Linked DNA regions of Homo sapiens: region 1 is linked to region 2. The links come from fine-mapping of genetic effects on gene expression. Tissue or cell type: thyroid. Region 2 holds a variant in brackets; the other region holds the start of a gene. All regions are shown on one strand. Distances are from middle to middle.

Region 1 (2,500 bases), 360 kb before region 2:
CGCCGCAGGTCTATCCCGGGGCCGAAGCCGGCGCCCGCCTTCTCGGGGAATTCTCCGGAGGGGGAGTGCGAGGGGAACCACGGTGACTGCCTGCTAGCTCACGGCTGGCGCGCACACGCACACGCCCAACTTTGCCAAGCCGTCGGCGCCCCGCGGGCTCCCCCGCGCCCCCTGCGGCTCAACACGCTCGGAGACCTGTATCTCTCCTGCTCTGAGATAAGGTTCCCTCCACTCTCACACCTTCGCATGTAGGGGAGGAGAGGGCGGAGTGAGGCAGAGAAGGGGGTTAATGCTACTGACTCCCTGGCCAGCCTTTCTCAAACACTCTACGCCCGCAGGGGCGCCCGCGCCAGCCACGCCGCACCAGGTCCCCCAGACCTGCTGGTGACGACAGAGAGAGGAGGAGGAAGAGAAGGCAGGGCGAAGAACCGGGAGCCGGGGAGCCCCGGAGCTCGGGAGCCCGGGAGCCCAGGCGACGGACAGTTCCATCGACTGACCGTCATTATCAGCACTTTTATTACTAAAGGACTGGGTGGGAGGTTGGGGGGTGTGCAACAGAGCTGGCCAGCCCCAATCCACTCTGGAGCGACCCTAAATTAGAGCCACAGAGAAAGATTCTCCACGGATACCTTTTGAGTGGACGTGCTCCAGACACACACCCGGACCCCGTGGTCCCGCCGAAGCTGCAGTGTTGGGGGTATTTTAAACGGTTCTTATTTGGAAGGAGGCGTGATTTCCACGTTCGAGCGTCTTCGCTCCCCACCCCCTCTCGGCACCAGCCAGTGCGCGCCACCACCTGAGCCTGGCGAGAGCCGGGACGCACGCAGTCTTCAGCCTGCTCCTTTAAGCCTCTGGAGAGACTCGGCTCTGAGCGGGTCCGCCCGACACCCGCCCCCTCCCCCCACTCCTGAGAACTCTTTACTTTTTGTTTGGAAAATCGGGGCCATTTCTTTATTTATCTCTGGGTCTTCCCGGAGGAGGGCAGAGAAGGGGAGAGCGAGCTTGGCGGGCCGGACCGGGGGAGGGGAGCGAAGGGAGGGGAGGGGACTGGGTGTAGCCTGGAATTCTCCGTCCTCGTGTTCCTGGGCGGGCGCGCAGAGTCTCCTGGCGATAGCGCCGTCGCCGCTCCCCGCGCCACCCCGTCGTTGGCCTTGGGGGTCGGGTGAGTGGGGTCATGACGAGCCGCGGGGGCTGCCCCGGGCCCCGCCCGCGCTGAGAGGGGACGCGGCCGCGCGGCGCGGAGCCCCCCTGGCGGGGAGGCCGCGGGGGGTGGGGAGGGCGCACGCGGTAGGGCGGAGTGGGGGCGGCGCAGAGGCCGCCAAGCTGGGGGGCTCTCCGGGAGGGCGCGGCCGCGGGCAGGAGGGCGTGTCTCCGGCTCGAGGGGACCCTCCCGAGGCGCGGCGCGGGACTCCCCGATGGTGGTGCCGCGGCTCCGGGAGAGCTCAGGGTCTCGCCGCCGCCGCCGTCGCCGCCGCCGCGGGCGCCGCTGCCGCCGCCGCCGCCGCCGCCGCCGCCGCCGCCCGAACCCGCGCCGAGCGTGCGCCTCGCCCTCCTCCCGCGCCCGCTCTGCTCTAGGATGCTGCGGCAGGTTCTGCACAGGGGCTTGAGGACGTGTTTCTCCCGGCTCGGCCACTTCATTGCCAGTCACCCTGTCTTCTTCGCCTCGGCGCCGGTGCTCATCTCCATCCTGCTCGGCGCCAGCTTCAGCCGCTACCAGGTCGAGGAGAGCGTGGAGCACCTGCTGGCGCCCCAGCACAGCCTGGCCAAGATCGAGCGCAACCTCGTTAACAGCCTCTTCCCGGTCAACCGCTCCAAGCACCGTCTCTACTCGGACCTGCAGACCCCCGGGCGCTACGGCCGGGTCATCGTCACCTCCTTCCAGAAAGCCAACATGCTGGACCAGCATCACACCGACCTGATCTTAAAGGTGAGAGGGGACGGGTGCGGGCAGACTCCGCCAGCGCCGCGGCCGCGGTCGGGCTGGCTCTGCGCTGGGGTCCCGGCTGAGAGCGCCACCTCTCCTAGCCCAGGCAGCTGCCGCAGGGACTCTCCTGCACCGCGCGCCCCAGGGCGGCCGACTGGAGCCTCCCAGCCTCCTGGACAAGGAGCGTCGGGGTCCGGGTCCGGCCCTGCCCGCGTCGCCTCTACCGCCACCCCGCAGCTGCTGCAACAGTTGGGGCGGCGGCGGCCACAGTGCTGTGGTCGGTGCGCTTGTTTTGGTCGCAGTGGGCTTGGGGGTGGGGAGGCTTTGGGGTAACTGGGCCAGCAAGGAGCAGAACGAGAGAAGACATTCTGGAAAGTCCTACTACTTGAGAACAAAATACTATGCTTGGAGGGGATTCCGAGATACCCCTCCCTGTCCTCAGTTTTGTTTCTCCCTTTTTCTGGCCCCCCGGAGTGTTTGGGGAACGGTTGTTGGTGTGGGATGTTGGGAAAGGACAAAAGAATGTGAGGCGGGATGGTGATGAAGATGCCTCCCACCCACCCAGAAAGAAGTGTG
Region 2 (2,760 bases):
GTTCTCAAACACATTAACTACTATTTTATTATTTAATGATATTTTGGTATCCTAACCCCCCTATGAACTTTGTGACAACACTATGTCACTGAGAAATCTTTGAATACAAGGTTATTAATATATAAGATGTAACAAAATATGTGTTTCAGGTAAATAATTTCATAGACCGGGCGTAGTGGTTCACACCTGTAATCCTAGCACTTTGGGAGGCCGAGGCGGGCGAATCACTTGAGGTCAGGAGCTCAAGACCAGCCTGGCCAACATGGTGAAACCTCGTCTCTACTAAAAATACAAAAATTAGCTGGACGTGCTCGCTTAAACCCAGGAGGCGGAGGTTGCAGTGAGCCAAGGTCGTGTCACTGCACTCCAACCTTGGTGACAGAACAAGACTCTCTCTCAAAAAAAAAAGTTTCATAAAAGTGTCTGCAGTGGAGGGGAATATATATACACATATCTATGTATTTGTGTGTCTATATATATTCATACATATATATAGGGTCAAAAAACTTTTACAGCTGGGTGCAGTGGCTCATGCCTATAATCCCAGCACTTTGGGAGGCCGAGGCAGGAAGGTCACTTGAGCCCAGGAATTTGAGACCCGCCTGGACGATATGGTGAGACCTCATCTCTACAAAAAGTATAAAAATTATCCAGGCGTGGTGTCTTGTACTTGTAGTCCCAGCTGTTCCTGAGCCTAAGGCAGGAGGATCATTTAAGCCCAAAAGGTCAAGCCCTCAGTGAGCTGTGATCACACCACTGCACTCCAGCCTGGGCAAGAGAGCAAGACCCTGTCTCAAAAAAAAAGAAAAAAAGAAAAGAAAAGAAAAAGAAAAACTGTTTTTCCTCTGTTCTCACATGACAACAATCAATACAGAAGACTTCTGTGACCAAATGTGTAGGGTGTAGGGATTTTCCCCACCAACAGGCAAGCAATTCTGCAGTGGACACCAGCCAGGAATCTTCTGATCCAATTCAATTCTGATGCTGTCCACCTGGATATAGCATCAGATACCACAGGTTGAGGGCTCAGACCCACAGGACTGCCCCCACTTCAGACACCAGCTCCCAAGTACAGGCCTCTGGAACTTCTGACTGACTGACTTCAAGTTGGGGTTCCCATGACCCCCTCTTTAGGCTCAATTGTTAGAGCAGCTTGCAAAACTCCGGGAAACGCCCACTTACACTTACCAGTTTCTTATGAAGGATATTTTGAAGGATACGAATAAACACCCAGATGAAGAGGCACATAGGGCGAGGTCTGGAAGGGTCCTGAGCACGGGAGCTTCTATTCCCGTGGAGTTGGGGTGCACCATCATCCCAACACATGGGTGAATTCTTGTTCACCTTCCTGCAAGCCTTCACCAGCTCAGCTGTCCAGAAGTTCTGCGTACCTGGTCCTCTTGGGCCTTTTATGGAGACTTCATTGGATAGGCATGACTGAAGCATGGACAACCGTGTCAAAATGTGATTGGATCGCTTCTCGGCCTTTTGGCTAAGATCAAGTGCAAAACGTGATTGGGCAAAAAGGGCATGATCTAATGCTAATAGACGGAGTGGGGAATCCTAGCAAGGCCTGT[C/CTGTT]CAGATTCCTGTTGGCCTCTCTGCACGGCACTCCTTCCTCCTGGGTTGAGGGCAGGACCCTTTCTAAAATGAGGATCTTATGACCTACAATCAGACAAGGTAGGTCAGAGAATTTCTTTATGACCGGCTCCAAATACAAAGGTGGGGGCAGATTATATTTTCAGTTTCTATGGCCTGCCTTGGAGAGACAAAGGAGCAGGTGAAAAAGGAGAGTATGAGAAGGTCAGCGGGAGAGGCTGTTTTCTGAGCCCTGCTTCTGAGGCCTACAGCACCCGCACATTAAAACCAAAGATGGTCTTTTCCTTTGATCGCTCTGAAGCACTTCCAAAGCTGCTTCAGGAACCAAGGACTAAAGGACGAACACTTTAACAAAAGATATGCTTATTGCTTAATCACTTGGGAAATAATAAGGGCTATGGGAGTTATGAGCCAGGAACCATGGACAAAAAGCTATATATATATAATGATATCACATATATATAATGATATCACATAGATATACATATGTATATATACACACACAGATGCTTCTATAAACTCATATTTTTTACCTAGCTTTTCAACAGAAAAGAAAATGTTTATCATAGTTACTATGTATTTAGTTTCATATAGCAAAGTAATTTTTACCAATCCTATTACTAAATAACAATTTTAGCATAATATTGTACATTTATGTAAAATGCTAAAAATATATTTTATTTATTTATTTTGAGAGGGGCTGGAGTGCAGCAGCACAATCTCGGCTCACTGCAGCCTCTGCTTCCCAGGTTCAAGTAATTCTGCCTCAGCCTCCCAAGTAGCTGGGATTACAGGCAAGCACTACCATGTCTGGCTAATTTTTGTATGTTTAGTAGAGGCAGGGTTTCACCATGTTGGCCAGGCTGACCTCAAGTGAATGGCCCGCCTCAGCCTCCCAAAGTGCTGGGATTACAGGCATGAGCCACCGTGCCCAGCCCAAAAATATATTTTAAAAGAGCCTCCTTCCTGAGTCTTAAACTTACAATTTTTTTTAATTAACAAATTCAAAAGCCAACTCGAACACCCAAATTCACCTAAATCGTATATTTGTTCACACAAAAAACATTTATTACCTAAATATGTGCAAGGGACTTTGCTAGACAATAGGAATAAAAAGATCTGATACAATTCCTTCCCTCAAGAAGCCCACAGTCTCATAAGTGAA

Direction of the effects. Alleles are on the strand shown, and positions count from the first base shown. SD is a standard deviation of normalised expression in the study named.
In carriers of allele C in region 2, the expression in thyroid of the gene that starts at base 1,550 in region 1 tends to be lower than with CTGTT alone (moderate effect, 0.69 SD a copy in GTEx).

The links. PIP is the estimated chance that this variant, and not a neighbour inherited with it, causes the effect.
Region 1: it holds the start of PTCHD1, and the variant in region 2 is fine-mapped to the expression of PTCHD1 in thyroid (GTEx, PIP above 0.99).

What each region holds. Positions count from the first base shown.
Region 1 is chrX:23,333,300-23,335,799 of GRCh38, forward strand. It overlaps PTCHD1 (patched domain containing 1), which reads left to right and starts at 1,550. Exons shown (of 3, transcript NM_173495.3): 1 at 1,550-1,927. The coding sequence starts at 1,577.
Region 2 is chrX:23,690,845-23,693,604 of GRCh38, forward strand. No RefSeq gene overlaps it. Among named protein-coding and RNA genes, the nearest start is that of PRDX4, 25 kb to the left of the region's middle. The variant C/CTGTT (reference allele first, on the strand shown) is at 1,578.